Homo sapiens: one gene and its partners. The protein of the gene in region 1 purifies or fractionates together with the protein of each later gene. This does not show direct contact. Each region holds a gene or a part of one and is shown on either strand. Other genes may lie near its edges.

Region 1 (3,500 bases):
AGAGGCAGTCTCTGCCTTTAAGGAGTTTGCGCTTGTTGGAGTCACCAAACACACACAAAAAGTTACAGGGCCATAAACTTTTTAAGCCAGAAGGGACCCCTGTAATCATCACAACCACCCAAGGAGGTAACTTAGCACCATGTGGGCCAAAGGCCTTGTCAGACTTGGCCAGAGGAGCCGGACCACAGCTGTGCCCTGGATCCTGTCCGACTGCATCAAGTCAGATCTTAGAAATATGCTGTAGGCATAGAACTGACCAGAAGGTGCAGACCAGGAGCACTGCACATGAACCCCTCAACACTTTTGACCAAGTGACTTGTGACCGTCACTTGGACACTCTGACCCTGTTCTCATATCTGTAGAGGGCAAGAAGTCTCACGACCTCCTGGGATTTTTTTGGTGAAAATTAAATGAGAACGGTAAGATCTTCCAGGCCTTCCTCCTGGTCCATGTGTCCTCAATCCGGAATTCCCCAACACCAAGGGCAGAGAGGAGTGGTGAGAGTAAAAAGAACAGTTCATTCTTCTGGAGAAGAGAAGGTTGATTCAGTGAAAAAGGCCTCGTAGTTGAGAAGGGGGACTCTCTGTTCAGCATCCCCACTAAAGGAAGAACAAGGGGAAATAGACTTCAAAAGTTAGAGAGAAAAAAATACTTCTAAATGGTCAGAGGAAATCCATAAAGTAGGTGGGGACAGGCTGTGAAATCACCCAAGTCTTTAAAACAGGCCAAAGTGCCCAGCCATCTGGGTGCGTAAGTAAGGCGTGGATACTGCCTTGAAGCAGGATGCACACGATGACTTCCTTGGGGCCTTTTCCTGTTGTTAGGAATCCAGTGATGAGGCCACATTCTGTAAACTCTCAGTAGGGACCAGAAGTCAGAGGCTGGGCACTGCTGCCGGCTTGGCTGCAGTGCTCACTGCTGGGCTGAGTCACAACCCCTCCAGAGGTGGGCACCCACCTGAAGAGCAGGCAGTTGGATCATGGCCTCTGCACCAAGTTCTGAGGTCCTCCAAATGAACCAACAAAGGCACAGTAATTTGGGGGAAATCACAGGAAAATTCCAAGAAAAAACCGAGTGCCAACAAAAACAGAGAGCCCCAGCCAGGCACGGTGACCCACGCCTATAATCCCAGCACTTTGGGAGGCCGAGATGGGTGGATCACCTGAGGTCGGGAGTTCAAGACCAGCCTGACCAACATGGAGAAACCCCGTCTCTACTAAAAATACAAAACTAGCCGGGCGTGGTGGCGCGTGCTTGTAATCCCAGCTACTCGGGAGGCTGAGGCAGGAGAATCGCTTGAACCCGGGAGGCAAAGGTTGTGGTGAGCAGAGATCACACCATTGCACTCCAGCCTAGGCAACAAGAATGAAACTCCATCTCAAAAAAAACAAAAACAAAAACAAAAAACCAGAGAGCTCCCATTTTCTCAACTGCCCTAATTTCCTTCATCATCTTTATCATGATCTATAATGACTGGACACTGGTGTTTCCATGTTGAACACCTGTCCTGTGAAACCAGACTGTAAGCTCCATGAGGGACAGCCCTGTCCTCACACGAATCTCCGACGCTGAAAGTAGTGAGTGGCACGTGGCAGTGACTGAAAACCTTGCTGACTCTCCTTAAAGGACCTAAGACCATTAGATGGGTCACTGGAAAAGTTTTTTAGTTTAACAGGCATGGTGCAACACCAAAAAAGCCAAAACAGCCTTAAATAGCATTCAAACACTCTTTCTTCCATGCCTTCAGTCCTGCTATCTTGGTGGTATTAACACATCAACCATGTCTCCACTGTAAGAGCTATACTTCAACCTCTGTGGGGAGAAAATGACTCAATAGAAAATTCCTTCCTCCCAGCAAAAAAGACACCTAACTCAAACCCTATGTGTGCTCACACGGCTTTGCACTCGTTGTTTAACACATGGATCCCAAAATAAACTTGTCTCCCTTCACTTCCAACATAGAGGACTACTGTGTGACCAGTAATTAAAAATGGAATATACTGCTCTTAACTCAGTTGACTGCAATAAAGTACTTGGATTTTCCCACAATCATAACAAGACAGGGCAGAGAAAGGAGGCAGGGTTGTGGGGAGAGGCAGAGACTCGGTATTTCAGAACCCAGACCTTTGTCAAAAGTGCCACATAATTTTAAGAAAACGGAGTGGGGCTGTTTTCTTGTGATTACTTAAAAAAAAAGGCGGGGGGGGGGGGAGGAAACTCAAACCACGCTACAGTAATTGTACCCAGATGCTTTATTTCCTCAGGACTGTTGTGCTTCCAGTTGCTGCAAGGATTTTAAATTCCTACACAGAGTAGAGGCCTATGCTGCAGCTTCTGCATCAGCCTCACATCCACAGACCTGGTTTGCAACCTCAGTAAGCAAAGGGTTTTCAGCCTGCAGGTGGCAGAGACCCCCGGAACCTTCAGGGAAAGGAGGTGCCGGCTGCTTTCTGTTTTCCCCTATCCTGTTCTTATCTCCTCTTAATGAGATGCTGTGGCCCTGCCCCTCCCCATAAACCAGAGGGGAGCCTCCAGGCAGGGAGCACAGAACTGACCTGACAGAACTGACCATAGGGGTCCTCCTCCTTCTCCTCCTCTTCCTCTTCCTCCTCCTCCTCCTCACGTTCCCTTCTCAAAACAATGCAACTTCAAAAGTATATGCTTCTAAGTCTGTGCGTTCAGGGCTTTCCAAGAGCCCTCTGAAAATTTACTCACAAGGTCACTGCCCAAAAGGCAATACCCTCTTCAACAAGCATTTTCTAAGGCAAGATCAAGGGACACTCGGCAAGGGGCCAGGACTCCAACAGCACTGGGCAACGGGACCTTTTGAAAACAGGCAAACTTTTACAAGTGGATCTTAGCAAACTGCCCTCACCAGAGCTTCCATCCTCTAATTGTGGACTACTGCTTCCAGCATATCTTTCCTATGGCATCATTTTCTTTGATAATTGAAGCCAAGCTTGATTCCAATGGCTCCGCACAAAAACGGGCCTCATCAGCGAGTTCTTTCAGAGAACTGGAAGCAGCACTCGGAGCCAGCAGAGGGCCATCTGCTGGGCCCGACTTCTTTTAAGGGAGGCCAGAGCAGAGGGCCCAATGGGAGGCAGATGAGCCCCACCTTGGGCAGGACACACAAGGGCCCGTGCAGAAAGGCGAGGACACAGGGAGGGCTCTGTGCACCCAGCACCTTATTCTCCTCCCCAAAATAAATGCTGGGCCCAGTGCCCAATCCCACAACCCCCCTTCGCACACACCTCGACACTGTGCGTGTGTGTGTCTGTGTGCCGGGGATTTTACACGTGCTCCTACCAACAAGTTGCTTTTGCTCTAGGTTATTTATAGCCATTGTCAAAAGCCCAGGCATCCCCCTCAACCACTCAGACCAGAGTCCTGCCCTCTGAGGATAATTCCTGCTCTTCCGCCCCAACTATTTATATTAAACCTGACACCAAATCAGTAAGGACACAAACAAGTCGTTAAAAACGAGGCTCCTTTGAGTG
Region 2 (3,500 bases), on another chromosome or scaffold:
GTTTGTATACATATATATGTATACATACACACACACATATACACACACATATATATATAATTTTACTGCCACCAGCACTAGATCCAGAAATCTTCCTACAAGTTTCCACTAGTCTAGTTTTTATTCTTCTCAAAAGCAAAATAAAACATTCTTAGATTCTACAAGTAGCAGGGAAAGACATCAGGAAATGGCTGTACAGGAAATGTAATTGATGATTCTCTCTTTACAATTGAAGTGGTCACAAGATTGGCTAGCAAACACAATCTATTAAATGAAAAAAAAGGTGACTTCTAAAATCTTTGGGGAATTTGAATACATTTGAAGCTTGTTGGTACCTTTGACATCTTACTGATTCTTTTTGAAACTCTTACCTTTTTCAAACAATTGTTTGCATTTGAAATTGGGAACTTTCATATCCAGTGATTGCTTTAATATTTGCTTTGTTTTTAACAGTGCCCTTAAAGATAGCCGTTTTCCCCCAATGACAAGGGATGAGCTGCCACGGCTTTTCTGCTCAGTGTCTCTGCTCACTAACTTTGAAGATGTCTGTGATTATTTGGACTGGGAGGTAAGATTATAGAAAAATTTTTAAAGAAAAATGAAGGTAACTCTTGAGGAGATGTTAAAAATTAGGCCCAGAAAATAACTCTTTCAGCCCATTCTCTATTGTAATGGAGGTCGAGAGTAATATGGATGAATAAACCTCACAACTGAACGAGATATAAGTAAATGAGTTTTTTAAAGGACAAAGTGCCACGTGTTGTTATAATCCCCAAACTGAATTTGGTTTTCATTTTTCTCCTACTACCTCACCAAAGCACCTCATAAAAGCTGTTAATAAGTAATAAGAAGGACTGACTGGAATTTATTTCTCCTCTTACTTTCATTCTGGTGCACTCTGGTATAACCGCCACTAAGTAACTAGTTGGTCAGAGGATACATCTCAGAAACAAGAAGAAATATTTAGGATAATACACCATTTGGGGGAATCAGCTTGTGATAACAACAAGGTATTGATTAACTAGAGTTAAATAATGTGAATTCATTCTTGGCTACCTTAGTTTATACACTTAAACACTCTAACAAATAATACTAAGGTTATTTCTAGGGTATCTCTGTGCATTGCTATTGTTAGAGTAGCTTATATTGATCATATTTTTATTCTTCTTTAGTACATGGGGTTGGCTAACATTGTTAGTGAAGTTCAAAGGTTCTCACCATGATTTGCTTTGGTGGCTGGGAGGAGATGTTGAGTGTAGGTCTATTGGGTCTATGAAATTTTACACACAAGCATGCCCATATTACTGAATGCCTGTTTTATTCCAGGCAATGTGCTCCATGTATAAAAGTGGTAAGATTTGGTTCCCACCATGAAGCATGTCATAATTTAGTGGCGAGTAAATGTGTATAGAAAGTATGAAGAAATAAGTGCTATGAGAATGAAACAATGGGAACTCAGTGATAAACATAACATTCTCTCTCACACATACACTCATAAATGGCATTATTGTATCCTTATGACAGATTTTAATTCTTCTGCTGTTTTAGAAGGACCATCCCCCATAGTAACTGAACTATTCTGCCTTGGAGACAGATCACTGTCTTCACAGTTTATTAGACTTGAATTTAATTTTGGCTTTGCCCTGATTCCTTGTGAGACTTTGAACAATTTACTTACTCCACTGCAATTCAGTTTTCCAATATACAGAATAAGACATTTATAAGGTTCTTCATTTGAAAAAAAACTCTATGATATAAATTATTGTTGTTATACCAGAGCTATTTAAAAAGTTTTAGGGGGTGGGGTGAAAAAAAACTTTTCTACAGAGAGTACAATGCTAGAGTCCCCTCTGGGTTTTGTGCTAAGATTTTCTGGAGCATTATCAGAATATGAACACATCTTAGGATTTTTGCAAAGGAAGAAATAAAATAAATTTATACTGTTGTTCCTACCAAAGTTGGAATGTAGAAAACCTTTTGTAAACTTGAAATTTCTGATTTATTATTTGCTATAAGTTTGTTGTTCTTACTTGATTTTTCTTAAAGAAAAGTCTACAAATATTATGGAAATATTCCTTAGTACTTTATTTTTAAACAGCCCCAAATCATGTTCCCTACTTATTAACATATATTATAGTCTGGGTGGTTCTTTTACTGTTTTAAGGCTGCTGTTTCCTCTTCCGCAGCCAGATTTACTTTTGCTTTCTGGATTGCAGGGTGTTGTGTATGTAGTAGTGGGGATGGGAGTGATTATATGGGAAAAGCCTGAGATCCAAGGGGGATGACCAAGCTACAAGAACACTTCTACTCTTGCAGCTACTGAGTTGGAAGTACAGTTCTGGCATGTGTGTTTCTGTGTGTGTGCATGTGTGTGTGTCACAAACATGAACATACTAGTATTACATAAATGTGTGTGCATGTGTTTTGGGGGAAGGAAAAAGGGGAGAATACAACAGCTGTTACATAGGCATGGTTAAGCACCGAGTACATCATCATCATCTTTAGCCCAGTTAAAGCACTATCTACAGCTAAAATTAACCTTGATATTATTGGACTATTATGTCCAAAAGATACATCAGCTTTCTGTTTGTTAGGAGAGTGGGATGTAAAGCCCTTAAGAAGTAGTACTGTGTACTCCACTATATACTCTTTCAAGGCATATTTATCCTCTTTGGTCACCATCTGCCAGCCTGAATTTCCAGAAGATTCTATATTGTTCCTACTTGGTATTGTGTATTTAATATATTTTAGGGGGCTTAAATATTAATTTCTATTAAGTATTAGTTCCCTATTGAAGCAAAAAATACACTTTTTTTTTTTTTCGAGACAGAGTCTCGCTCAGTCGCCCAGGCTGGACTGCAGTGGCGTGATCTCAGTACACTGCAAGCTCCGCCTCCTGGGTTCACGCCATTCTCCTGCCTCAGCCTCCTGAGTAGCTGGGACTACAGGCGCCCACCACTATGACTGGCTAATTTTTTGTATTTTTAGTAGAGATGGGGTTTCACCGTGTTATCCAGGATGGTCTCGATCTCCTGACCTCGTGATCCACCCACCTCGGCCTCCCAAAGTGCTGGGATTACAGGCGTGAGCCACCGTGCCTGGCCCCCATTTTTTTTTTTTACTTTTAATATACAAGTATTTGAAAGTGAATTAGTTACTGTTAGAATGGCTATGCTAAGAGGAAAAGCCCATCCTTTTCAGTTAGTTCATCATTGTTTCAGGTATTTGGCAGAAGAGAAATTTGTATACAACGAATAAGGGTGGAAATTATATTTTTAAGTACAAGAATGTGATTTGGTCTTAAAAAAATATGTACCTTACTCAGTGATTGAAAATGGAGTAATAGTATTGTGGGAATGATATTCTAAGGGTTATCCTTAATGATTCTGAAAAAGCATTACTAAACACAGAATGCCAAAATGGAATTAAAGGCATTAAAAAATTATACGTTGACACAATTTCACTTCTAGGTATATACCCAAAAGAATTGAAGTGTTGAA
Region 3 (3,991 bases), on another chromosome or scaffold:
CAGGCTTGAGTGCAGTGGTGTGATCAAGGCTCACTGCAACCTCCGTCTCCTGGGTTCAAGCGATTCCCCTGCTTCAGCCTCCTGAATAGCTGGGACTACAGGCACGCACCACCACGCCCAGTTAATTTTTTTTTTCTTAATTTTAGTAGAGATGGGGTTTCATCATGTTGGCCAGGATGGTGGGTTTTTTGTTTTGTTTTGTTTTTTTGATGGAATCTCGCTCTGTCGCCCAGGCTGGAGTGCAGTGGCGTGATCTTGGCTCACTGCAAGCTCCACCTCGCGGGTTCACACCATTCTCCTGCCTCAGCCTCCTGAGTAGCTGGGACTACAGGCACCCGCCACCATGCCCGGCTAATTTTTTTTGTACTTTTAGTAGAGACGGGGTTTCACCGTGTTAGCCAGGATGGTCTTGATCTCTTGACCTTGTGATCCTCCCACCTAGGCCTCCCAAAGTACCAGGATTACAGGCGTAAGCCACCGCTCCCGGCCTATGTGCATCATTTTTTAAGACAGCATTGACACCAGGACCCTGGGCTGAGTCTTTCATCTCTAAGACGAACTTGCAAGTTCCATGGGAACAGGGACCACACAATGTATTTACTTAATTAATTCTGTTACAGGGATGTGATATTTAAACCAAACTTAAAAGACAGAAGAGGACAGCCAGGCAAAAGACATTGGACACATATTCCAGGCAGAGAGAACACCCTTCAGAAAGGCCCCGAGGAGCAAGAGAAGTAGAATATTTAAGGATCTGAAAGCAGCTCAAGTGACCAGAGCAGCAAGCCAGAGGGATGAGGCCTGGAGATGGGCTGTACACACCACACCCGGCCTGAGGTCTCAGCGAGGGCCGTGCTTTTATCTGCAAGCCACAGGGAGCCAACCTTCCAGGGCAAGTGACGGGCCAATTCTCACTTTCAAAGATGCAGGTGAAAATGGACAGCGGAGACACAGAGGCGAGTTAGGAGCCCAAGCAGGGTTTAGGGGAGAGAAGGTGGTGGCAGAGACTCCTCTGTCTGTGCACCTCCCATCACAGTGTTTTACACGGCACACACAGACATGGATTTATTGCAAATTGGGCAAATGAAGTTATTCTACTGGTTGCTTTTCTACATGACCAACTCAGGCTTAGCTGCCCAGCTTTTTCTTTTTCCTTTGAGAAGGTAATTCCGTGGCTTTTTTTTTCCTTTCTTAACCTGAAAGTGTCCCGGTGTTTGATTTCATGGAGCAAAATAAAAACCCTGGAGGAATACACATGCCACAGAAACGCCTTGAGACAAAAAAACGTTTGGCTAATAGTTTTGGTATTTTCTATGCCTTCCCCGGTATGCAGGAAAGTCACAGCAGTGTGATACAAAGGAGTGTATGGTGATAAAAAAGCGCAGGCCCAGGGACCTCTGGAAACTGGGCTGGCGGTAGAGCTATGGGGCAATAGCGTTCTCAGTAGTAGGCTGCCTTGTCATGGGAGGGCTGGAGTGAGGGCCACTGTGCGGAGGGAAAGCGACCGTGCTCTGGGGTGGGGGTGGGAATGGGGAATAAAACAGAAATAGAATCTGCGGTGAGAGCACCACCAAGCCACCCAACCCCCACACTGGGGAGACAAAGGGCCCTCTGGGGAGGGAAGGTCCTGGCCCACCTCCTTGGAGGGCGCCTCTGGGCGGTCCTGGCCTGCCCAGGGGCAAGGAGATGGGCCTCACAGCGATATTGGCTCTCCCTCAGCTCCTGCATCCGCCGGCGGAGGGTTTCTCCGCTTCCCTAGCCCAGACCTAAAAGGGTCACCGCTCCCAGGCCCCTGACTGCGCCGGGAACCGCTGGGTGGAGGGTGTCGACCCTGCTTCCTGCCCTCAGCCCGTCCATCGCGCCAGAGAATGCACCAAATTCCCCAATCCTTGCCCTCCCCGGGGGTCCACATCCGCGGGGCAGGACCAACGCAGCCTCTCGGGGCCTTGGCGACTTACCGCTGGGGGCCCGCAGTGCAGCAGGGCGCGGCCGCGACAGGCTCGGGCACCGCGTCGGAGCGCGAGCCGCGCTCAGCACCACGGTCAGCTCCCGGCGCCGCGCGCCGCGGCCGGGAGGGGGAGGCCCGGCGCCCGCACCCACCCACCGCGGCTCCAGGGGCCCCGCGGGGTCGGGCAGGCGAGGGTTAAGCCGCCAGAGGCCAGCGGGAGGGGCGGGCCGGCGCTGGCGCGCAGGGGTGGCGAGGGGGCGCGCCGGCCGCGGTGGGGGCTGCTCCGCCAGGCTGCCGCCTCCCTGCGCCGCCGCTCGGGCCGCGCTCGAGCCGGCTTTGTCTGTTCGTATCGCCCCGTCTCTGTTTCTGGGTGTCTCTGCCTCCCACCCGGTTGCGGCTGCGCCTCCCTCAGGTGCAGTCGTCTCCCCTCGCCCCCGTGCGCACGGCGCCCCCGCCGCTGTCCCCTCTTCCGGGAGCGCACAGGTGTGGGAGCCCCTCCCCCTCAGCCCAGAGAGCCAGCCCAGCCCTGCCGACCGCAGCACTCTCGGAAGGGCTCGGCCACCCGGAGCCTCGTCACGAGTCTTACCCAGGGTTCGGAGCGGGCCTGCAAGAAGGGGCAGGCCAGGCTGGGGCTGCAAGGCAGGGTCTTCCCTTGGAGAAGGGACCTGACTCTATTATTAAGAGAACGAAAGAGGCACTTGCCCTACAGGTACTCACTGTGTGGGGTCTACTGGTGCTGTGCTCTGCCGCAGTCTTGAGGGAGGAGCAGAAATGCTGTGGGGACTCTGTCTCCGCAGAACTGAGGACGAGGGGTCTGCACGCGTGGTTCAGTGCCTGGGGCTGGGGTGGATTAAGTAACTCCAGGAAGGCTCAGGCAGCAGTGCCAGTAGTGTGGGGCGGGGTTGTGGGGAGGAGGGGGGAGCGGGAGCGCACAGTCGGTGCTGGGGAGAGGCTGATGCCAACAGGAGGCTCTCGGCCGTGGTGTGCCCAGGCGGGGCAGGACGGGAGGATGCAGGAGTCCCGGGTCCACGCTGAGGCTAAGGCTGAAGGGAAGGCAGAGCTCAGGTGGATGACGGAGGCCAGGCCTTTCCCTGAGCTTGGTGGGCTCCCTCCCGGTCACCTTGTCTGAGAACCCAGGACACAGAGTCCCCTTGCTTTGGACTGGTTTGGTTTGTCATTCCCCTTGACATCGCCTCGCCCCAGAGACAAGAGGCCCCTTCATCCTCCAGCCAAGACCTTCCCCACCCTTGGGTGACCTACCCTCTTGCATTTTTTAGATTTGAGCCCTCTTTCTATGCAGCGACTAACTCAACGTGACCCCAGAGGCCCCCTCGCCCATGTTGCTGGTAGTCTTGACCTTTTTTGGCAGATCCTGGCTGTGGGAGTTCCCTGTCTTTCTCTTAGGTAGGACAGAAGGCAGTTTCTGCCTCGTTGCCACATACACCCCAAGTCAGGGGTAGGACTCCCGCAGACCCCACAGTCCTCCTCTTGTTAAAATTAGTAAGCATTAGCCTTCCTTATTAGGCTCTCCCCGCTTTTGCATTTAAGGATTTTTTAATGTGTCTTATAAAATCATGTAATTGTGAGGATAATTACAGATTCAGCTTCTTCCAGTGAGTGACAATTGCTCATTTTCGATGCTCACATGGTCATCGTTCGGCCACTGCAAACTGTTCCAACCCTTCTACTTTGTCATTTCAGACAGTTTTCAAACACCCCTAACTTTTGGGTAACATGAAAATATATATTTCAAATTTTTTATTTCCCCAAGATGTGGGATCAGGTCTTCCCCAGGGACTCCTGGAAAAATCTTTTACACTAGGCTACCCAGTTCAGATACCACTGAATGATTTTTCTTAAATATTATTCTAATGTGAACTTACATTTTATTTTTACAATACACTGACTTACACGCCTGTAATCCCAGCACTTTGGGAGGTCCAGACGGGCGGATCACAAGGTCAGGAGATCAAGACCATCCTGGCTAACATGGCAAAACCCCCTCTCTACTAAAAGTACAAAAAAAATTAGCCAGGCATGGTG
Region 4 (3,500 bases), on another chromosome or scaffold:
GATTCTGATTAACCTAGCTGGATATTTTTTAATTCCTGTGATTTGTTTCCATCTATAGACCAACAAACATTTATTAACACTGAAATTTAAAAGTTAGCCTGACAAGGATCAGCAAAAGATACCACAACTATTAGGTAAAAGATCACTGGAGAACAGGCTAGCATTACAGTGCTAATTTATCATGCCACAGATTACTTGCTGACTGCAGTGAGAAAAATATACCTCACCTTACTCCTCTCAACCAAGCAATCAAACTTAGTATCACAAATAATGGGACTGCACAGTGTACGTCTCCTAATGGGAGGCATATAAAATATATTAAATCACTTATTAGGTATTCTTGTCCAAAATGTTGAAATTAAAACTAATCGACCCTTTAAATCTAGTTTACACTTAACAACTGGTATGGGGGAATACAGGAACAAGCTAAACAATGCTATGACGGGGGGAGGGGGGTGGAATCTGACAAATCGAGAATATGAGTCACTTTATAAGACAACTGTCTTGATCTCTTAAAAAAAATCATTGTCATTTTTAAAGGGTGTAAGAGGTGAGACTGCTGTAGACTATAAGAGATCAAAAAGCCTTAACAACTAAATGCAATGAATAAACTTTGATGAAATCCTGATTTGGTGGGGATGGGTGTACAAACCACAAATGACAATTCAGTACGAATGAGATGTAAATATGGATATATATTAGAGTATATGAAAGAAGTATCGCACCTAAGAAAAGTAACAATAATGGTATTTTGGCTATGTAAGAAAATGTCCTTAACTTTAGGAGATGCATGTGACATATTGAGAGGTAAAATGTCATAATGTCCATAGCTTAGTTTCAAAGAGTTCAGCTGAAAATAATATACAAGTATATCTCATTTTATTGAGCTTCATTTTATTCTGCTTCATAGTGTTTTTTAAAAAAAGATATCTGGAAGTGTTTATTTCTCCTTTATTTTTGAAATACATAGTTCCAGGATCTAGAATTCTAGTTTGATAGTTTTCTTCTTTCAGTAGAGGTATACCTTGTTTTATTTCACTTTTCATTGTGCTTCACAGATAATAATGTGTTTTCTTACAAATTGACTCACTCTATTGCCCAGGATGAAGTGCAGCAGCACGATCTTGGCTTACTGCAGCCTCCATCTCTTGGGTTCAAGCAGTTCTCCTGCCTCAGCCTCCCAAGTATCTGGGACTACTGGCACCTCGTCCCACTAATTTTTGTATTTTTAGTAGAGACAGGGTTTCACCATGTTGGTCAGGCTGGTCTTAAACTCCTGACCTCAGGTGATCCGCCTGCCTTGGCCTCCCCAAGTGCTGGGATTACAGGCATGAGCCACTCTACCCAGCAGATGTCGGTATATTGATAGGGGTTGCCTTCAATCTGCAGATTGCTTTGAGTAGTGTATTAGGCCATTCTTGCATTGCTCTTAAGAAAAACCTCAGGCTTGGTAATTTATAAAGAAGAGAGGTTTAATTGGCTCACGGTTCAGCAAGCTGGACTGGAAGCATGGTGCTGGCACCTGCTTGGCCTCTGGTGAGGTCTCATGACATAAGGCAAAGTGGGAGCAAGGACCTCACTTGGCAAGAGCAGGAGCAAGTGAGAGAGTGGAGAGATGCCACACATTTTTAAACAACCAGATCTCACATGAACTTGCTCATCATCAAGGGGACGCTGCTAAGCCATTCATGAGGCACCCACCCCCATGATCCAGTCACCTCCCACCAGGCCCCACTTCCAACACTGGGGATTGCATTTCAACATGAGACTTGGAGGAGACAAATAAACAACCCATATCAGGTTGTATGGTCACTTTGACAAAACTGATTCTTCCAATCAACGAGTATGGGATGTTTTTCCGTTTGTCTGTGTCATCTAGAATTTCTTACATCAGGACTTTGTAGTTCTCCTTATAGAGATCTGTTACCTCCTTGGTTAAATACATTTCTAGGTGGATTTTTTCTTTTTTTGAAGATTGCTTTCTTGATTTAGTTTTCAGTTGGATCGTCATTGGTGTATAGAAATGCTCCTCATTTTTGTACACTGATTTTGTATTGACACTTTACTGGATTATTTGTCAAATTCAAGAGGTTTTTGGTGGCATCCTTAGGTTTTTCTAAATATGACAGAGATCATGTCATCAGGGAATAGGGTATTTTGACTTTTCCAACTTGGATGCATTTCCTAATTTAAGAAATACAGCCAGGACAGTGGCTCATGCCTGTAATCTCAACATTTTGGGAGGCCAAAGTGGGAGGACCATCTGAGGCAAAGAGTTTGCAACCAGCCTGAGCAACACATTGAGATGCTAACTCTAAAAATAGAAATAAAAATAAAAAAATTAGGCTAGCCTGAGCCAGGCTCAGATGTTCTTCTAGCATTTTTTTGGCAACAAATAATTTTTTTTTTTTTTTTTGAGATGGAGTCTCGCTCTGTCACCCAGACTGGAGTGCAGTGGCGCCATCTCTGCTCACCGCAAGCTCCACCTCCCGGGTTCACGCCATTCTCCTGCCTCAGCCTCCCGAGTAGCTGGGACTACAGGCACCCGCCACCATGCCCGGCTAGTGGTTTTTTTTGTTTGTTTGTTTGTTTTGTATTTTTAGTAAAGACGGGGTTTCATCCTGTTAGCCAGGATGGTCTTGATCTCCTGACCTCGTGATCTGCCCGCCTCGGCCTCCCAAAGTGCTGGGATTACAGGCGTGAGCCACCGTGCCCGGCCAACAAATAATTTTTAATTGATATATATATATATATATATATTGCTTTTTTAGAATGTCATTGCACACTTAACAGACTACAGTATATTGTAAACATAACTTTATACGCACTGTGAAACTAAAAAAAGAAAAACAAACGAAATACATTTTGTAAGGCTATAACTACCATAGACAGTGATCAGATTCTTCTGACAGATCTGAGCAAAGTAAATTGAAAACCTTCTGGAAAGGATTCATCATTCTAGATGCCATTAAGAACACTGATGATTCATGGGAGGAGGTCAAAATATCAACATTAACAGGAATTTGGAAGAAGCTGATTCCAGCCCTCATGGATGACTTTGAGGGGTTTAAGACTTCAGTGGAGGAAGTAACTGTAGATGTGACGGAAAGAGCAAGAGAACTACAATTAGAAGCAGAGCTAAAACTTGAACAGATGAAAAGTTGCTTCTTATGGATGAGGAAACAAAGTGGCCTTTTTTTTTTTTTAAGACAGGGTCTTGCTCTGTTGCCCAGGCTGGTCTGCACTGCCACAGCTCACTGCAGCCCTGACCTCCCCTCCCCGGCTCAAGCACTCTCCCTGCTTCAGCTTCCCAAATCACCACAACCGGCTAACCTCTATATTTTTTTAATGGGATTTTGCCATGTTGCCCACGCTGTTCTTGAATTCCTTGGCGCAAGCAATCCTCCTGCCTCAGCCTCCCAAACTGCTGGGATTATAAGCGTGACCCCATTACGCCTGGACAGAAAGTGGCTTCTTGAGATGGAATCTACTCCTAGTGA

What was found.
Region 2: the proteins of AXIN2 (region 1) and AMMECR1 purify together in Homo sapiens (co-immunoprecipitation; one study listed by IntAct). This does not show direct contact.
Region 3: the proteins of AXIN2 (region 1) and AMER3 purify together in Homo sapiens (co-immunoprecipitation; one study listed by IntAct). This does not show direct contact.
Region 4: the proteins of AXIN2 (region 1) and MAP3K2 purify together in Homo sapiens (affinity purification with western blotting, with the first as the bait; one study listed by BioGRID). This does not show direct contact.

Annotation. Positions count from the first base shown.
Region 1 is NC_000017.11:65,551,649-65,555,148, forward strand, and holds part of AXIN2 (axin-2), read right to left. Parts: intron 1-3,500. UniProt on the Homo sapiens protein: Inhibitor of the Wnt signaling pathway. Down-regulates beta-catenin. Probably facilitate the phosphorylation of beta-catenin and APC by GSK3B.
Region 2 is NC_000023.11:110,213,586-110,217,085, reverse strand, and holds part of AMMECR1 (nuclear protein AMMECR1), read left to right. Parts: intron 1-453; coding exon 454-568; intron 569-3,500.
Region 3 is NC_000002.12:130,754,349-130,758,339, reverse strand, and holds the start of AMER3 (APC membrane recruitment protein 3), read right to left. Parts: upstream 2,801-3,991; 5' UTR 2,666-2,800; exon of another isoform or gene 2,458-2,665; intron 1,997-2,457; exon of another isoform or gene 1,959-1,996; intron 1-1,958. UniProt on the Homo sapiens protein: Regulator of the canonical Wnt signaling pathway. Acts by specifically binding phosphatidylinositol 4,5-bisphosphate (PtdIns(4,5)P2), translocating to the cell membrane.
Region 4 is NC_000002.12:127,381,476-127,384,975, forward strand, and holds part of MAP3K2 (mitogen-activated protein kinase kinase kinase 2), read right to left. Parts: intron 1-3,500. UniProt on the Homo sapiens protein: Component of a protein kinase signal transduction cascade. Regulates the JNK and ERK5 pathways by phosphorylating and activating MAP2K5 and MAP2K7. Plays a role in caveolae kiss-and-run dynamics.